Linked DNA regions of Homo sapiens. The protein of the gene in region 1 interacts with the protein of each later gene in a biochemical or structural test. Each region holds a gene or a part of one and is shown in the gene's direction. Other genes may lie near its edges.

What was found.
Region 2: the proteins of MAVS (region 1) and UBE4A form a complex in vitro, tested with the Homo sapiens proteins (one study listed by BioGRID).
Region 3: of the proteins of MAVS (region 1) and IKBKB, one has a biochemical effect on the other in vitro, tested with the Homo sapiens proteins (one study listed by BioGRID).
Region 4: the proteins of MAVS (region 1) and STAT1 form a complex in vitro, tested with the Homo sapiens proteins (one study listed by BioGRID).

The regions. Positions count from the first base shown.
Region 1 is NC_000020.11:3,859,734-3,864,835, forward strand, and holds part of MAVS (mitochondrial antiviral-signaling protein), read left to right. Parts: intron 1-1,598; coding exon 1,599-1,771; intron 1,772-2,520; coding exon 2,521-2,680; intron 2,681-4,522; coding exon 4,523-5,055; intron 5,056-5,102.
Region 2 is NC_000011.10:118,390,372-118,394,940, forward strand, and holds part of UBE4A (ubiquitin conjugation factor E4 A), read left to right. Parts: intron 1-285; coding exon 286-433; intron 434-2,366; coding exon 2,367-2,524; intron 2,525-4,569.
Region 3 is NC_000008.11:42,305,574-42,310,142, forward strand, and holds part of IKBKB (inhibitor of nuclear factor kappa-B kinase subunit beta), read left to right. Parts: intron 1-769; coding exon 770-859; intron 860-3,327; coding exon 3,328-3,452; intron 3,453-4,569.
Region 4 is NC_000002.12:191,006,831-191,011,399, reverse strand, and holds part of STAT1 (signal transducer and activator of transcription 1-alpha/beta), read left to right. Parts: intron 1-950; exon of another isoform or gene 951-1,028; coding exon of another isoform or gene 1,029-1,033; intron 1,034-1,395; coding exon of another isoform or gene 1,396-1,396; coding exon 1,397-1,524; intron 1,525-2,256; coding exon of another isoform or gene 2,257-2,292; coding exon 2,293-2,437; intron 2,438-3,738; coding exon 3,739-3,837; intron 3,838-4,569. UniProt on the Homo sapiens protein: Signal transducer and transcription activator that mediates cellular responses to interferons (IFNs), cytokine KITLG/SCF and other cytokines and other growth factors.

The DNA.
Region 1 (5,102 bases):
CCCATACTCCCCTTCCTCCCTTGCTACCTTGTCCTCCATCTGCTCTCACCCTCCCACTCCTGCCCCCTTGCCAAGTGATGCTTGTCACTCCTTTTTTTTTTGAAATGGAGTTTCGCTCTGTCGCCCAGGCTGGAGTGCAGTGGTGCCATCTCAGCTCACTGCAAGCTCCGCCTCCCGGGTTCACGCCATTCTCCTGCCTCAGCCTCCCGAGTAGCTGGGACTACAGGCGCCTGCAACCATGCCCGGCTAACTTTTTGTATTTTTTAGTAGAGATGGGGTTTCACCGTGTTAGCCAGGATGGTCTCGATCTCCTGACCTCGTGATCCACCCGCCTCGGCCTCCCAAAGTGCTGGGATTACAGGCGTGAGCCACCAAGCCCAGCCCTGCTTGTCACTCTTGAGGAGTGGGCCCACATCAGAACAGCTTTTGGACCTATGGGTGGGGCGGGGGGTGTACCCAAGAGCACCCAAGCCTCTTTAATCATGAGGAGAACCCCCAATTCCTTTTTTTTTGAGACAGAGTCTTGCTCAGTCGCCCAGGCTGGAGTGCAGTGGCATGACTTCGGCTCACCACAACCTCTGCCTCCCGGGTTCAAGTGGTTCTCCTTCCTCAGCCTCCCTATAGTCCCTGATTCCTTCTATTTTTTTTTTTTTTTTTTGAGACGGAGTCTCGCTCTTGTTGCCCAGGCTGGAGTGCAATGGTGCAATCTCAGGTCATGGCAACCTTCACTTCCCAGGTTCAAGCAATTCTCCTGCCTCAGCCTCTCGAGTAGCTGGGATTACAGGCATGCGCCTCCACGCCTGGCTAATTTTGTTATTTTTAGTAGAGACAGGGTTTCTCCATGTTGGTCAGGCTGGTCTCGAACTCACGACCTCAGGTGATCCACCCACTTCGGCCTCCCAAAGTGCTGGGATTACAGGCGTGAGCCACCACGTCTGGCTTCTTTTTCTTTTTTTCCCCCGAGACGGAGTCTTGCTCTGTTGCCCAGGCTGGAGTGCAGTGGCGCGATCTCAGCTCACTGCAACCTCCGTCTCCCAGGTTCAAGCAATTCTTCTGCCTCAGCCTCCTGAGTAGCTGGGATTACAGGTGCTTGCCAGCACGCCTGGCTAATTTTTGTATTTTTAGTAGAGACGGGGTTTCACTATGTTGGCCAGGCTGGTCTTGAACTCCTGACCTCCTAATCCACCTGCCTTGGCCTCCCCAAATCCTGGGATTACAGGCATGAGCCATCGTGCCCAGCCCCTGATTCCTTCTTTTTTTTTCTTTCTTTTTTTTTTTAGACGGAGTCTCGCTCTGTCGCCCAGGCTGGAGTGCAGTGGCGCGATCTTGGCTTACTGCAAGCTCCGCCTCCCGGGTTCACGCCATTCTCCTGCCTCAGCCTCCTGAGTAGCTGGGACTACAGGGGCCCGCCACCATGCCCGGCTAATAATAATGTTGTATTTTTAGTAGAGATGGGGTTTCACTGTGTTAGCCAGGGTGGTCTCGATCTGACCTCGTGATCTGCCTGCCTTGGCCTCCCAAAGTGCTGAGATTACAGGCATGAGCCACTGTGCCCAGCCCTGATTCCTTCTTGATATCACTACATCTTTGTCCTCTAGGGACCTCGGACCGTCCCCCAGACCCACTGGAGCCACCGTCACTTCCTGCTGAGAGGCCAGGGCCCCCCACACCTGCTGCGGCCCACAGCATCCCCTACAACAGCTGCAGAGAGAAGGAGCCAAGTTACCCCATGCCTGTCCAGGAGACCCAGGCGCCAGAGTCCCCAGGAGAGGTCTGTCCTCATAGTCTACCTTGAGCCACCACTTTTGTGTTCCTATCTGCCCACTTCTGCCCATTGAGCCTTCCAGAAACCCTCTCCCGTCCCCTATAAATCACGCCTAATCTCTGCTCAGAACCCTAGGGCTTCCTCAGTGGGGATCTGCCCCAGACCAGCTTCCAGGCTGCTGACCAGGTCTTCACCCTGTGGCAGCCCTAATCCTCTGTCAGCAACCAGCTGGGAGACCACAGTTTTGTGTGTGTGTGTGTGTGTGTGTGTGACAGTGTCTCATTCTGTCACCCAGGCTGGAGTGCAGTGGAGTGATCTTGGCTCACTGCAACCTCTGCCTCCTGGGTTCAGGTCATTCTCCTGCCTCAGCCTCCTGAGTAGCTGGGATTACAGGCACCCACCACCACGCCCAGCTAATTTTTGTATTTTTAGTAGAGATGGGGTTTTGCCGTGTCAGCCAGGCTGGTCTCGAACTCCTGACCTCAGGTGATCTGCCCACCTTTGCCTCCCAAAGTGCTGGGATTACAGGCGTGAGCCACCGCACCTGGCAATGCTGTGTGTTTTCTGTGAGGTAGACGTAAGGACACCTGTGGACAGAGGGTCTGGGAATTACCAGAACCCAGGCAAGGGCTCCCCTGGCTCCTGTGCTCCATGGTGTGGGCTGAGGCCTATAGGAGATGCCCCAAGAGCACAAGCTGCCCTTTGTGAGCTCTTGGGAGAGGCAACTGCCTTATTCATATTTTCCCTCATTGCAGAATTCAGAGCAAGCCCTGCAGACGCTCAGCCCCAGAGCCATCCCAAGGAATCCAGATGGTGGCCCCCTGGAGTCCTCCTCTGACCTGGCAGCCCTCAGCCCTCTGACCTCCAGCGGGCATCAGGAGCAGGACACAGAACTGGGCAGTACCCACACAGCAGGTATGCATGGAATCTGGAATTATAGGGTCCTTCTGATCTCTCAAGTGAGGGTAAGAATTAGAGTTGCCCCATCTGGCTTCCTTGAACAGGAGACAAGGTGGGAATAAAGGGAGTTCAACCCAGGAAGCAAACCAGTTCCTTAGTGGGTGTATCAGTTAGCATTTGCTGTGTAACAAATAGTCCACTCCAGTTTTCCAAATTTTTTTTTTAGTAGCTTAAAATACAGCCATTTATTTAGCATATGATCCTGTGGGTCAGGCATTTGGGCTACCTACATGGGCATTTCTTCTGGTCTTGGCTGAATTTCCTCTCAAGTACTCACCGGTATATACATAAGTTCTGCCTCTGGCTGTTTGCTGAGCACCTTGGTTCTCTTCTATGTAGTCTCTCATCCTCCAGCACACAAACCCATCATGGCAGCTGGGCAGAGTTCTCAGAGAGGGCTCAAAACTGGCACAGTGTCCCCTGTGCTCCATTCTGTGGGCAAAAGCAAGTTATAAGGCCAGCCTAGATTCAAGGAGTAGGGAAATAGACTCCCTCCCTAGACGGGAGGACTGACAGGCACAGTGCAGTGGGGCTGGGTGGAGATGAGCGAGATAAGTAGGGCCATTTTTGCGCTCTGCCAAAGGGACTGTAGGGAACAGCCAGGGCCTATAGGGCAGTGGGAGAGGGACAGTGAAGGGCTGCATCAGCTGTTGGCAGGGGAACCTTTAGGCACTGTCTTACCGCAGAGATCTCCAGTTCCCAGTGAATCATGAAAACTTCTCAGTCCCCAGAGGAAGTAAGGTCTTCATCATCCAGTGGCCTGGACTCAACTCCAGATGTCAGTGCTCCCCCTCAGAAATATATAGTTGTCCATCTGGACCTCTCAGGCCAGCATGTCTCTTTCCTACTTCCCAAACTATTCCACATGACGCTGGTGCCCAGTCAGCCCTCAGTGCCCTGGGACAGCCACAAGACACATGAGCAGTTAGAGGCTGGGAGACGTCATCTTAGTACTTTTGTCATCCCCAAACTGCTCCAAGCACCTGTCTGCTTTGCAGTGTCACCTGGCCACGGGATGCCTTTCAGGAGTTGCTGTAGACCACAGAGGCAGAGGGCGCTTAGGTTTCAGTACGTTTGTAGACACAGGTCCCATGAGATTCTGTGGTATTAGATTGTGGTGGGGGAGCTGTACATCAGAATCACCCTGACTTTTGCCAGCTGTGGGGCTTGGCATGTGCATTCCGAGTTCCGTGGAGAGTCCTGCTGCAACTGCCTTTACAGACCATCACCACCTGCTATCCTCTGCTTCCCCCACCCAGGTCAGGCAGCCTCCCAGGGGTGGCTTTGTCCTTGTCCCCTCTCTTCCCAAGCCTCCGGGATGGCCAGGCCTCTCGGCTGGTGTGAGCTGTTCTGCATGAGCCATCCTGCCACCCCTTGCCCTGATCCATGGCTGCTCCCACTCATGGTGGTAGGAGAGGGACAGCAGTGGGGGAAGTGTCCAGGATTGCATGAGGCTAAGGTCAAAGTAGAAAAGGTAGACACAGGAGAGGGGAGGTTTCCCAGGTGGGAGAGGAAAAAGCGGAGAGAATAATTAATAATGGTCTTCAGGCTCCTAGGTACCATTTCACTGTGTGCCAGGACAGACCTGGGGCTACAGGTCAAGGACTGAGGGCAGCTGTTGGGCTTTCAGGCCAGGAAGCAGTGACCAAAGGGACTGTGGCATCTCCTCCAAGGGCAGGAGATTTGGAGGCCTAGACACAGTAGGGACCATGAGATCTGGGCCAGAGGGACCCTTCTCCAGGCCTCAAGGTAATGGTCTTTGGGTCTGTGTTTCCACTTGTGTTTTTCCACCGGCAGGTGCGACCTCCAGCCTCACACCATCCCGTGGGCCTGTGTCTCCATCTGTCTCCTTCCAGCCCCTGGCCCGTTCCACCCCCAGGGCAAGCCGCTTGCCTGGACCCACAGGGTCAGTTGTATCTACTGGCACCTCCTTCTCCTCCTCATCCCCTGGCTTGGCCTCTGCAGGGGCTGCAGAGGGTAAACAGGGTGCAGAGAGTGACCAGGCCGAGCCTATCATCTGCTCCAGTGGGGCAGAGGCACCTGCCAACTCTCTGCCCTCCAAAGTGCCTACCACCTTGATGCCTGTGAACACAGTGGCCCTGAAAGTGCCTGCCAACCCAGCATCTGTCAGCACAGTGCCCTCCAAGTTGCCAACTAGCTCAAAGCCCCCTGGTGCAGTGCCTTCTAATGCGCTCACCAATCCAGCACCATCCAAATTGCCCATCAACTCAACCCGTGCTGGCATGGTGCCATCCAAAGTGCCTACTAGCATGGTGCTCACCAAGGTGTCTGCCAGCACAGTCCCCACTGACGGGAGCAGCAGAAATGAGGTGAGTCCTCGCCCTTCCTGGCAGGGATCCTGGCCCCTTCCCCCGGG
Region 2 (4,569 bases), on another chromosome or scaffold:
TATAATATATTTAATATATATTATTTATAATTTATTATTATATTTTATATAATATAATTTTATATAATTATAATAAAATATATATTATATTTTATTATTATAAATAATAAATAATAAAATAATATTTATATATTATAAATAATATATATTGAAATAAGTCTTTCTATATCAAAAGAATGTTCATGGCTTTTAAGTGGTGAGAATGCTTGTTCTGCAGCCTACCTATTGTCTCTTCCATTGACCAACCCTCTGGTGATCAGTTTTTTTCTGATGCTAATGTTCCAGGGATGAGGAGAATTTCTGTGCCACTGTGCCCAAGGATGGACGTTCCTATTCCCCAACTCTCTTTGCACAGACAGTTCGAGTCTTGAAGAAAATAAATAAGCCTGGGAATATGATTATGGCTTTCAGCAACTTGGCAGAGAGAATCAAGGTGAGGAAGAGGAGGAATTGTTTGCTGATTTCATTAAGAACCACGTTGTCAGCCAGGCATGATGGCTCAAGCCTGTAGTCCCAGCTACTTAAGAGCCTAAGGCTAGAGGATCACTTAAGCCCAGGAGTTTGAAGCTGCAGTGTGCTATGATCATGCCTGTGGATAGCCACTACACTCCAGCCTTGGCAAGATAGCAAGACCCCATCTCCTAAAAATCCATGCAAAAAAAATCAGATTGTCACCTCAGCTGTGCTGATTTTTACTCTATTTCAGGGAGAAAAAGAGCATTACCAAGAGAAAATATAAACAGATGGTTCTTTTTGGACAGTCACTTAGAACTACAATATTCTTAGTTTTATTCTTGTCAACATGAGAGTGAGAATAGAAATTTAAGAAATCGGCTGGGTACAGTAGTGGCTCATGCTTGTAATCCCAGCATTTTGGGAAGCCAGGGTGGGCAGATCACTTGAGGTCAGGAGTTCAACACCAGCCTGGCCAGCATGGTGAAACCCTGTCTCTACTAAAAATACAAAAATTAGCTGGGTGTGGTGGCAGGCGCCTGTAATCCCAGCTACTCGGGAGGCTGAGGCAGGAGAATCGCTTGAACCTGGGAGGCGGAGGTTGCAGTGATCGCAACCACTGCACTCCAGCCTGGGCAACAGAGCGAGATTCCATCTCAAAAAAAAAAAAAGAAAAAAGAAATTTAAGGGCCAGGCGCGGTGGCTCACGCCTGTAATCCTAGCACTTTGGGAGGTCGAGGCGGGCAGATCACAAGGTCAGGAGATAGCGACCATCCTGGCTAACACGGTGAAACCCCATCTCTACTAAAAATACAAAAAATTAGCCGGGCGTGGTGGCAGGCACCTGTAGTCCCAGCTACTCAGGAGACTGAGGCAGGAGAATGGCGTGAACCCAGGAAGCAGAGCTTGCAGTGAGCCAAGATAGTGCCACTGCACTCCCGCCTGGGCAAAAGAGCGAGACTCCATCTCAAAAAAGAAAAAAAAAAAAATTTAAGAAACCTCAACTAGAAGAGAAGAATGTGCACATTTATGTAAGATGTTTTTATGAAAACGTTTATGCACAGTGTTACCAATAGATTTTAAAAGCTAGGGTGTTAATGCAGAATAACTTTTTAGAAAAAAAAAAAGATGAGTAGTTTTCAGTCATTAATTTTTATTTGGATTGTCTCTATGTTTGTAGTTGGTAGTTGGCTTTTATTGGAATATGCATACATTTTAAAGATTAAAATACTATATTGTATTTAGCTAAATCCCTTTGGTTAGAGTATGACAGAGCTCTATTAGCAGGTAAGAAGAAGGAAGATCATGGCACAAAAGTCTAATAGAAAACCTTCCTTATTGCTGTCAGTCTTCCCTCTATTGAGTTTCTTTTTTATTGAGTTGGACTTCATCTTTGTTTAGAGCTTAGCCAGGTGGATCCCTGAGGAACTCAAGTTGTGAAGGAATTAAATGTCAAAATGACTTTAAAATTCCTATACCTGTTTGTATCAAAAATCAAAAACTGCTTTTCATACGCAGGCTGCATGAGTGACTCTAATTATGCAAATAATACCCTCCTCCATTCTCCCTTCTCCATCCACTTTTGAATTATGGCATTTACAACAGAACTGTTGCCAGATGGATGTTATATCTGATGTATTTCTTTTCCTCCTAACATTTAAACCCATTTCCAGTATGACTGCCAGCAGCTGAGCCAACCTAAAGGTCCAGAGTTGGGGCTCAATGCTTAATTTGTTCTTAGAATATCTTGGCTTGTTTTTGAGAAAATGAAGCTCACGTGTGTCACTGTCACTGTCAAGGGTTATTAATGACCTGTTTTTTTATTTTTGAGATGGAGTCTTGCTCTGTCATTGAGCACGCTGAATTCAGCTACACTGTGAATTCACTTTAACTACCAGATGTTGTATACTCAGTCTCTTGCAGACCTCCAACAACAGGAAGAGGAAACCTATGCAGATGCCTGTGATGAGTTCCTGGATCCCATTATGAGCACACTGATGTGTGACCCTGTGGTGCTGCCATCTTCCAGAGTCACTGTGGATAGATCCACCATTGCAAGACATTTGCTCAGGTAGGCCAGTCCCAAAAACAGACTCAAGAGCATATATATATATTAGTTTGCTATCTTTTTCTCCCAGGCACCTAAGACAGTACTTTGCACCCAACACATACCACATATTATTGATTTACTGATATGTTGGAAGACATTTTGGTTTCAATTGCTAGGATATAAACATTTCAAAACAAAACATTCTGTTGAGAAATGCTAACTCTAACCTCACCTCTTCCTGCCTTAAGAAAATAATTTCTGGCCGGGTGCAGTGGCTCATGCCTGTAATCCCAGCACTTTGGGAGGCCGAGGCAGGTGGATCACTTGAGGTCAGGAGTTTGAGACCAGCCTGGCCAACATGGTAAAACCCCGTCTCTACTAAAATACAAAAAATTAGAGGGGCATGGTGGTGCGCACATGTAGTCTGAGCTACTCAGGAGGCTGAGGCAGAAGAATTGCTTGAACCCAGGAGGCAGAGGTTGCAATGAGCCGAGATCGCACCACTGCACTCCAGCCTGGGCTCAGGTGATCCTCCTACCTCAGCCTCTGGAGTAACTGGGACTACAGGCATGCACTAACACGCCCAACTAATTTTTGTATTTTTTGTAGAGACAGGGTTTCACCATGTTGCCCAGGCTGGTCTTGAACTCCTGGGTTCAAGCGATCCAACCGCCTCAGCCTCCCAAAGTACTGGGATTACGGGTGTGAGCCACTGTGCCTGGCCTGTTTTTTTATTTTTGCGACAGAGTCTCGCTCTGTCACCAAGGCTAGAGTGCAGTGGCGCGATCTCAGCTCACTGCAAGCTCCGCCTCCCAGGATCAAGTGATTCTTCAGCCTCAGCCTCCCGAATAGCTGAGACTACAGGTGAGCACCACCACATCTGGCTAATTTTTGTATTTGTAATAGAGATGAGGTTTCACCATATTGGCCAGGCTGGTCTTAAACTCCTGATTTCAAGTGATCCTCCCACCTCAGCCTCCCAAAGTGCTGGGATTATAGGCATGAGCCACCTCACCCAGCCTGCTTTTTCTAATTCAGGTTTTACACTATATTCACCATGTGGATTAACTCACGTTCTGTTGCTGTTGTTGTATCAGCTGTGGTAACCATGAACTTTCCCCAGCCTGCCTATTCTTCGGACAGTCTGCCCCATTATAACTATAGAAAAGACAGGAATGAAGCAATAAATGGTAGCTTATTAGCTGCTTAATGGGCCCCTTAACTTTTTTTAGTCCGGCATTAGAAAGAAATGAGTACTGAGAGACTCTGCCTATTTATATATTTATTTATCTATTTTTTTGAGACAGGGTCTTGCTCTGTCACCAGGCTGGAGTGCAGTGGCATGATCTCAGCTTACTGTGGCCTCACCCTCCCAGGCTCAAGCAACCCTCCCATCTCAGCCTCACCAAGTAACTGGGACCACAGGCCATGCACCACTGTTCCTGGCTTATTTATTTTTGTATTTTTTGTAGAGAAGGGGTCTCTCCATGTTACCCAGGCCAGTCTCAAACTCCTGGGCTCAAGCAGTCCACTCACATCAGCCTCCCAAAGTGCTGGGATTACAGGCATAGCCACCTTGTTTGGCCTCTCCATATTTAAAATTAAGTTATATCGAGCCAGGCACAGTGGCTCACGTCTGTAATCCCAGCACTTTGGGAGGCTGAAGCAGGTGGATCACTTGAGATCAGGAGTTCGAGACCAGCCTGGCCAACATGGTGAAACCCCGTCTCTACTAAAAATACAAAAATTAGCCGGGAGTGGTGACACATGCCTGTTGTAATCCCAGCTATTTGGGAGGCTGAGGCAGGAGAATCACTGGAACCTGGGAGGCAGAGGTTGCAGTGAGCCAAGATCACACCACCGCACTCCAGTCTGGGTGACAGAGCGAGACTCGTCTCAAAAAAAAAAAAAAAATTAAGTTATATCTCTACAAAAAATTATTTTTAATTAGCCAAGTATAATGGCACATGCCTGTAGTCCTAGCTACTCAGGAGGCTGAGGCAGATCGCTTGAGCACAGGAATTCAAGGCTGCACTGAGTTATGATGGCAGCACTGCACTCCTGCC
Region 3 (4,569 bases), on another chromosome or scaffold:
CTTTTTGTTTTCCATTTGCTTTAAGAGCCTCGCCTCTCGACTCTAAATGGAAACCAGTGGTCAGTTGGTTGTGGATGTGGCTGGGAAGAGGCACTGGGAGCTGGCCTCTGCTGCCAAGCCTGGTCCAGCCTATAGTTTCCCCAGAGCTCTTTGTGGCCTCCTCAGTGGCCACCCGGCTCAGACGTGGTGTTGACTGCCCCACAAGCTTGACATTGTGGTCTTTACCCACCCACTCTATGTGTTCAGCTGGGGTGGTGAGCACAGGCTCAGCTGAGTGGAATACAGTGAATGAGTTCTTAGATCACCTAATCCCTTCCCATACAGCTGCCCTTAGCACCTAGGCCTGGCCTGTGACTACCACAGGGCTCGCCCTTGTTCCAGTTCACCCTCACTCCTGTCAGTGGTGCTCAGATTTGAGAACTGAGGGCATTTACTGAGAAGAGGCTGGCCCGGTCCTTCCTGTTTCAAGTCTGGGTTTAGCTGTCTTGAGGGCTGGTGCCTGTTCTGTTCATTCAGCTTCCCTCTGATGATGCGTGGCAGAGTGTGGGAGGACACGTGCCTAGCATTTTTACAATATGCCTTTTCTTTTAGCCCTGAATCTACCGTGTCGAGGGCATTCTTTTGTGTATCTGGTGGCTCTTAGGAGTTTGGGATCTAATAGTACCTGGGAATTCAGAAATACCTCTGCTCTAACACCAGGCAGTCAGAATCCTCGTAGAAGGACATTGTGTTCTTATAACCCTCAGCTTTCTCCTTCCTTTTGTTTTAGTTAATACACAAAATTATTGACCTAGGATATGCCAAGGAGCTGGATCAGGGCAGTCTTTGCACATCATTCGTGGGGACCCTGCAGTACCTGGTAAGAAGTGGGCCTTGCCTGTTTGCCTGTCAGCTCCTCCCTGCTGCTGCATTTGTGGGGCTCCTGTCCTGCCTTGCTCCCAGCACCTGAGTCCCACCGGCTCTCTGAATGTTTTGGAGATGCATGAGGTCACACCCATAACCTGGTCGAGTCAGCATTTTTTGCCACCAGATGCCCTGTGGAGGGATGTGGTCGTCTTCTCTGATGTCCGGAGGGCTCTGCTCATGCGCCTTGCACCATCCCCTAGCCTCTCTGTGCTTCAGTGTCTTCTCTGAAAGGAAAGGGTTTTAAACAGATCCATGCTGGTCTTGAGCGGTCCTCCCACCTCAGCCTCCTGAGCAGCTAGGACTACAGGCAGGAGCCACTGAGCCTGGCCGAGGCCACACTTTCCATGAGGTATTTCAGGGGCCACTGAGTAGGGGTCAGAGCTCTGAGCTCCCCACCCTTTGTTTACGTTATTTGGTCTGAATATTAGGTTTCTGTTTGAGTCACTCATTCATTCAAGCATATTGATGGAGTGTAGTCTGTGTCAGGCACTGTGCTCAGGGCTGGTGATGCAGTGGGGAAAAAAGACAAGCCCTTTTCGGCCTTCAGAGCTTAGGGTTTAGCAGGAAAGCAAGCATTACTGTGATGCTTACACAGATAACTAAGAAATTACAGTTGTGGTGAGTGTTACAAAGCAAGAGTGCAGGGTGTTGCAAGAATATATATTGGGTGGCCTCAGCCTGGTCTGGGACTTGAAGGGTAAGGAGGTGAAAAGGGCTGGAGGTGGGGGACGGCAGGGGGAATTCCGTGCAAAGGGATCACACACAGGAAGACCTGCAGGTGTGGCTGGAACCGAGCACAAAAGGGAAAGAGAGTCTTGAGTTGAAGCTGAGAACAAGGTAGAGCACAGATTATGAAGGGCCTTCAGGGCTGGGCTAAAGTTCTAGACTTTATCTTAAAACCTCTGCAGAGATTGATGGGTTTTAAGTGGGAGAAGGAGCAACTCTTTGGAAAGCCCACTCCTGACACTGTGTGGAGAAGGAATCACACTGAACAGGAGGGAAGAGTGGGTGAGGTAGGGGCAGTGAAGATGTAGAGGGCAATTAGATTCCAGGAGGGCTTAGCACAAATGCCCAGCAAGACTTGTCATAGGTTGCTTGATGATGGCAGTAGCCACCACAATTGGGAGTGACTCAAGGAGTCTGCGGCTTTCAGAGTGGGTCTCACAGAGGGCTGTGATTCAGGCGCCTGTGTCCATATGGCATGTGATTTGGTAGATCCTTCTGGAGTCCTCCTCAGCTCAGCAGCAGTCGAGCAAGGGGGACCCCATGCTCTAACCAGGAGCTGAGTCAAGTCATGTACTCACATGAGCTAAAACGTCTGCCCATAACCAGACATAGAGGTTGACCTACCCATCCCGGAATGTCTTCTCTTGGTTTGGTCTCCCGGGCCCTTCCTTAAGCTTCACATTTCCAACCAGACCATGCACCACCCTGTCTCTGTGCTTTTGCTTGCCCCAGTCATTTCTGTCTCCACCCACCTGCTAAGCCCAGTCTGCACCCCCAGCACCCCGTGCTGCCGCCCCTTCTTCGGTCACCCCAGCGCTCTCTGCCTCAGCAGCAGCCATGCATCACACTTTCCCTGCCTGTTTCTAAATATCCTGGCCCTTTCTGCAACCACATGGTACCTGGTTCAGGGGTTCAACCAGCACTTAATGCGTGTATTTGGTGTGGACAGCCTGGCATCATTTTCCTTTAACATTTGTAGCCTCTCTTCCCATTTCTACACAGTGCCCACGACTGTGTCCTGCCTTAAGCTAGTTTTCAATAAGCGCCTGAAATGCTGCAACCCTTTTTTTTTTTTTCCTTTTTTTTCTTTCTTTCTTTCTTTTTTTTTTTTAGACAGAGTCTCACTCTGTTGCCCAGGCTGGAGTGCAGTGGCATGATCTTGGCTCACTGCAACCTCCACTTCCCAGGTTCAAGCGATTCTTGTGCCTCAGCCTCCTGAATAGCTGGGACTAAAGGTGCACACCACCATGCCCAGCTAATTTTTGTATTTTTAGTAGAGACGGGGTTTCACCATGTTGGCCAGGCTGGTCTCAAACTCCTGACCTCAAGTAATGCGCCTACCTCGGCCTCCCAAAGTGCTGGGATTACACGTGTGAGCCACTGCGTCCAGCCTGCAACCCTCAGTTTTAAAGGAGAGAAGTTAAAGCCTAGCGATGGGTGTGTGATGTACTCTGGCCCTGAATCTTTAGCCCCTCCATCAGTACCTACTGGAGTGAGTGGGACATAGAAAGGTCTTAGAAATGGTAGCATGATATACCCGCTAAACATGCCTGGGGTGCCCTCCTCGCCCTGCATGCATGTGCCAGTGCCCTCTAGGATGAAGCCAGGGGTGAAAGCAGATGGGCTGGCCGCCCCCTCCTGCCGTGGTCCCCCCAGAGAGGAGCAGCTCAGGTGTACCCCCTCCTGTTGCTGCAGGCCCCAGAGCTACTGGAGCAGCAGAAGTACACAGTGACCGTCGACTACTGGAGCTTCGGCACCCTGGCCTTTGAGTGCATCACGGGCTTCCGGCCCTTCCTCCCCAACTGGCAGCCCGTGCAGTGGTGAGTGGGCCCGGGGCACCTGGATGGAGGAGGGAGCCTGTCTGTTCCTTTCTCTTCACGTACCCTGTTTCCCTGGCGCCCCATCACCGGGCCTGGGAGATCTGTGTTGTTTCTCTTCCGAGAGGAAGGCCTGTCAGGACCTAGCACGAGTAGGGGAGTGGTCTGTGCTCCAAGGACCTGTTAATAGATAGAGTAGCTGTTAAGTCTTCATGTGGATTCTGAGCCTTCACATCTTTAAATACAATGCTGTGTCAGTGTCATCTGCTCTGTGTTCAGAAGTAAGACTATTGTATGAATATACGCACTTACACTGAGAATGCTGTGTGTTAGTAAACAAATAAAACACGTGTACACATGACAAGTCAGGAGGAAATATGTGAAAATTTGTTGTTGACAAATGTTACTACAACCTGAATATAAATTTTTGTTTTTAAAGCGTAAGAATGTGGCCGGGTACAGTGGCTCACTCCTGTAATCCCAGCACTTTGGGAGGCCGAGGCAGGTGGATCAGTTGAGGCCAGCAGTTCCAGACCAGCCTGGCCAACATGGCAAAACCCTGTCTCTACTAAAAACCCTAGCCAGGTGTGGTGGCGGGCGCCTGTAATCCCAGCTACTCGGAAGGCTGAGGTGGGAGAATTGCTTAAACCCAGGAGGCAGAGGTCGCATCACTGCAATCCAGCCTGGGCGACAGAGTGAGACTCTGTCTCAAAACAAAAAAAGTTTAAAAAAAAAAAAAACAACAGCTGAGCATAAAGCATAAGAATGTAGCTGAAATTGTGAACCTAATAAATTACACAAAAATTTTTCCAGTAAAAATTAAAGGATATGATGAAGATTTGTAGAATTACCCTGTATTCTTTAGCTTTTGTTTTACTGATTAAAGAAATAATGCATTGTGCAGGATATGTTTATATAAAAGTTAATTATCACCACCAAAAATGGTATGTGAGGTAATGTATATGGTAATTAGCTCAATGTAGCCATCCCACAATGTGTACATCATGTTGTACAGGATAAATATAGACCATTTTTATTTGTCAGTTTAAATCAAGAACTGGGGGCAGAAAAGAAATAAAAGTTAATTATTACTGAAAGCCATAATTTAAAAATGAATATT
Region 4 (4,569 bases), on another chromosome or scaffold:
GTAAGTTACCTGGGTTCGCTTGGCTAATAAGAGGCGTTGCAGCTCCCATTGCCTGACGGTCCAGCATATCTGCTTTAGGTAGATCCTTATTAGTTACCAAGCAGGGAGGGAGACAGCCACAGATTTTTCCACTCAGGTAAAATAAAACTGAACTGAAAAATCAAATTGCTTCAGCAGGAGTGCCAAGGGGCTGGGCTTGGGTCCGTTTCTACTGGTATATATGAGGATAACTAGCTTTATAGGCCAGACATTTCCTCACACTCCTTTGGAAGGACATTTGTGGAGTAGGCGTGACCTCATGCCTGCATACATGTGCTCGGCTACAAGTATGCATACACACTCTTCCATGCCCTACTTGAAAATCCAGACTCCTTCCCCAGAGGTCTGGCAGGACAAGATTCACTTGTGTCTGCTCTGCATATTGCCACCTGTGTGCTGATATAAATCCTAAGTTACATGATGGTCATGGGAGACTCTCCGTTTTCCTAATGAATTTTAGGACTTGCTTATATCAAGTTTTTGTTGTGATTTTGAATCTTTAGGATCACTATGTAAAAATGGACTTAACAGTTATCCAAAAAGCTAAGTGTTACTTTATCCTTTTAAATTACATTTAATGATGTTTTAATCTTTAAAAATCATTACTTCTTTATGCCAGATTTATTGTTTGTAGTAGGCAAAGAAGAAAATATATCTTTTTAAATGTGTATAAGAAAAATAATGAATTTTACCATATGAATCATAAATATAAAACAGAAGTTTGAAAATATTTGAGTTAAATTACAAATGTACTGTGATTTGTAGGAGAGCAATTTTGGGAGAGTCTTGTGATTTGTCTTAAAGCAAGTCTAATTAAAATAATGTTTTTCATGTATTTATTTGATAAAATCACAAACTCATTTTAAAGGCATATTTATTGGATACCTACTATGTGGTTGACATTGTTCTAGGGATACACCAGTGCACAGAATCCTCCACCAACATCCATCCCTTCAAGTGGTGAAAACAGACAATAATGAAAATAAAATATGTGGTAGGTCAGATGGTGGTGTAAGTACTATGAAGAAAAATAAACCAGGGAAAAGAGAGAGCATGTTTCCAGGGTGGGAGGTGGTTGCAGTTTAAATAAAAGAGGCCAGAGAAGGCTGCCCTGATATGTTGACAATAAGCAAAGACATGAAGATGTGTTTCGTGGAGGAGAAAAAAAGTTCATCCCCAAACTCAATTAAAAACAGGCTTTAGACTATAAATGCCATTTAAATAAAATATTCCTGGGACAAACTATGTTTTGGATTAAGCAAGATATTTAAGAGTACAACCTGATGCTAGGAAGGCTTTCTTTGGAGCTATGGTTTCCATATACATAGAAAGAATGTATATTCTTTTTCCCTATAGGATGTCTCAGTGGTACGAACTTCAGCAGCTTGACTCAAAATTCCTGGAGCAGGTTCACCAGCTTTATGATGACAGTTTTCCCATGGAAATCAGACAGTACCTGGCACAGTGGTTAGAAAAGCAAGACTGGTAAGGAAAATTCACTAGACAGAAGAAGAAGTTTACACCTTAAAAGTACTGGTTGATTAAGTGACTTGGGGCCATGTTTACTGGAAGATGAATTCCATCAATGGCCACTGGAATTATTTGTTGTAGAAAAGTTTGTTGATTTAAAAAATGACTCAACAAAGTTGAGCCAAAAAGTGTCTCAACAAAGTTAAGTATATTAGTCATTAAGCACTTTTATACAGTTTTGCCAAATTTAATTTATGATAGATATTCCTAAATGCTTTGGACAAGTTACGGAATACTGACACCGATTATTTTCCAACTTAGGATCCAGACTATAGAAAGAAGTAATTTAAAAGAAATAAAGCCAAATTAATGGTTAAACATTGATTAGAAATATGAAGAAGGTAGTAAAATTAAGGGGATTTTTTTTAACTGATAGGTGTTCTACTTTAAAATTTATTATTTGCTAATTTAAAAACGTCCTGAAAGTATTTGACATAGAAAGTGAAGGGTCCCCTGTTGACTTTTCCCCCTTCAGAGATAGTCACCATGAACACTGTCATGCACAATCTCTTAGAGTTTAGAATTTTTTGTGCTAATTGCACATAAGAGAAATACCACATAAACTGCTGCTAAAAGCAATGTCAGTTTCAAAAGAAGAAAATAAACCTAAGAAAATACTTAAATTATTTTTAATAATTTCAATAAGGAAACCAACATTTGTTTTGTCTGTTTTACATAGACATTTAGTTCTAGAATGAAATGTGTAAATGTTAAATCTCCTAGGGAGCACGCTGCCAATGATGTTTCATTTGCCACCATCCGTTTTCATGACCTCCTGTCACAGCTGGATGATCAATATAGTCGCTTTTCTTTGGAGAATAACTTCTTGCTACAGCATAACATAAGGAAAAGCAAGCGTAATCTTCAGGTATGACCTGGTTTTTGTATTTTAGTTGAAATGTTCTCATGTTTATGGAAGGCAGTTTTCTTCATTCAGCAAATACAATTGAGCACACACTTATTGGTATTTAGAGAAGTAATAGAGACTAACTCCATTTATGTTTTCTACAGCATCAGTAAATATAGCATAAGTAAAATAAGATACCAATTTATTTTATAAACACAGAAGGAATTTTTAGGGTTAAATGTATCACCTCTTAGGTATCAGTAATCCTGAGAAAAATGTGATGCTATAATTTTGTTTTACTAAAAATTGTCAATATTTAAACCAAAGAAAAGGGGCTACATTTTAAGAGCAATGATCTATAGTAATACATTAAAGCTCCAGGGAACATTAGTGGTTAGGTTCAGGTCCTTGCTATGCAAATGAGGAATAAAACAGGAAAGGTTTGACTTTCACCTAAGGAAGTCAGGTGACTTCAGGAACTAGACTCCACCTTGCCTTGCTTCTGGTGGAGTTGGCCTCTCCTGGAAGAGAAAGTCAAAGAAAGATCCAGACATGAGAGAACATGCTATAGAGTTTTAGGGGTTCTTCAGATGTACTCCCAGCATGCCCTTGGGGTGGCTATCATATTTATGTTGTGTAATAACAGAACTTTTCTGTTTTAATGGAGGTGAAAGCTATCATTTTCTTCTTTCATACAATACAACTGAACTTTTCAGCTTAGGTAATTGGAAGTTGTTTTTTTTCCTTTGTGAATGTATTTATGATTTTATTTACGAGTGGGGAAATCAAATTAACTTTACAGAAATTTGTTCTCATACAGACCTTGCATGAATGTACCTGTATAAAGAGCCATTATTGCTATTGGTAGTGTTTTGCAAACTAGCTTTGACAATGGCAACAGAAAACCCTAGATGAATATCTTTGGTCTAGTTCAAAGCTTAGACCAACAGATGCATTCATTGAGGAATGTCATGTATAGTTTTTATATCATTTGCATTGTCTCGGGATCCTAACCAAAGATAATTGGCCTTAAGAAATATGGAAAGATATTAAAGTAAAAATATTATGTGAACCATATGTGAAAATACTTGTTTTTAAATCAAAAAGTACGTTAGGTACCTGCACTTAGAAAGTTAAAGCAATTTTTGTCATAATTCGTGAAAGAAATATTTTGATTTTAACAAACATAGCTTATATAGAATTTAATAGATGAGAGATGAGGTTTCCCGGAGAATATAAACAAATTCATATCAACTTACAATACACAATAAAGTAAACATTCTGCATTTTAATTTATTTTTGTTCTAACCACTCAAATCTAGGATAATTTTCAGGAAGACCCAATCCAGATGTCTATGATCATTTACAGCTGTCTGAAGGAAGAAAGGAAAATTCTGGAAAACGCCCAGAGATTTAATCAGGTACTTTTTTCTCATTGAACACATAAACTGTAATAAAATAAAAATGTATTCATTCATCAAATACTATTAGGGCCCATGTCAAAGCAATGATGAATATCTCTCTAATTTTATAGCCCCAAGAAGTGGGAGAATCAGATTTAGAGATTTTATAGAACCAGGCTTTAAGAAAGATCCTAATCTAATGGAATTAAGTTCTAACGAGGAGAGAGAACATATAAACAAGATACTTCTGGGTAGCATAAAGTGCTGAGAAGATAACATGCTGAATTCATGGAGTGGCTGGGAGTGGGGTTGTTCCTTTAGATCAGGGTCAGGAAAGGCCTCTGAGTTGCTGGCACAGGAATGGAAGCAGGCAGATAGAGGGTTCTTGCAGCTGTCCAAGGTAGAGGCAGTGGAAGCTTGCGCTCAGTAGAATCAGTGGAGGTAGGAAGAGGTGGACAGATTCAGGTTATGCTTTGGATGTGATACCAATATAGAAGGATCCTTATGTTGAAGGATTAGATGCAGGAGTGAGAGCAGAAAGTCAAGGATGGCTCTACAGCAGCTACTAGAACCCCTTGAAAAATGGTAATGCTGTACACGGAGCTGGGAAGGCAAGGAGGGGGCAGGGGCAGGAGTTTTGTAGGACTCAATAGGTTTGTGGAGAGAAAAGGAGGCTGATGGGAAAATCAAGGGCTTTGTTTTGAGCAACATCAAGATACCTATTAAATATTCAAGGCATCAAACAGTAAA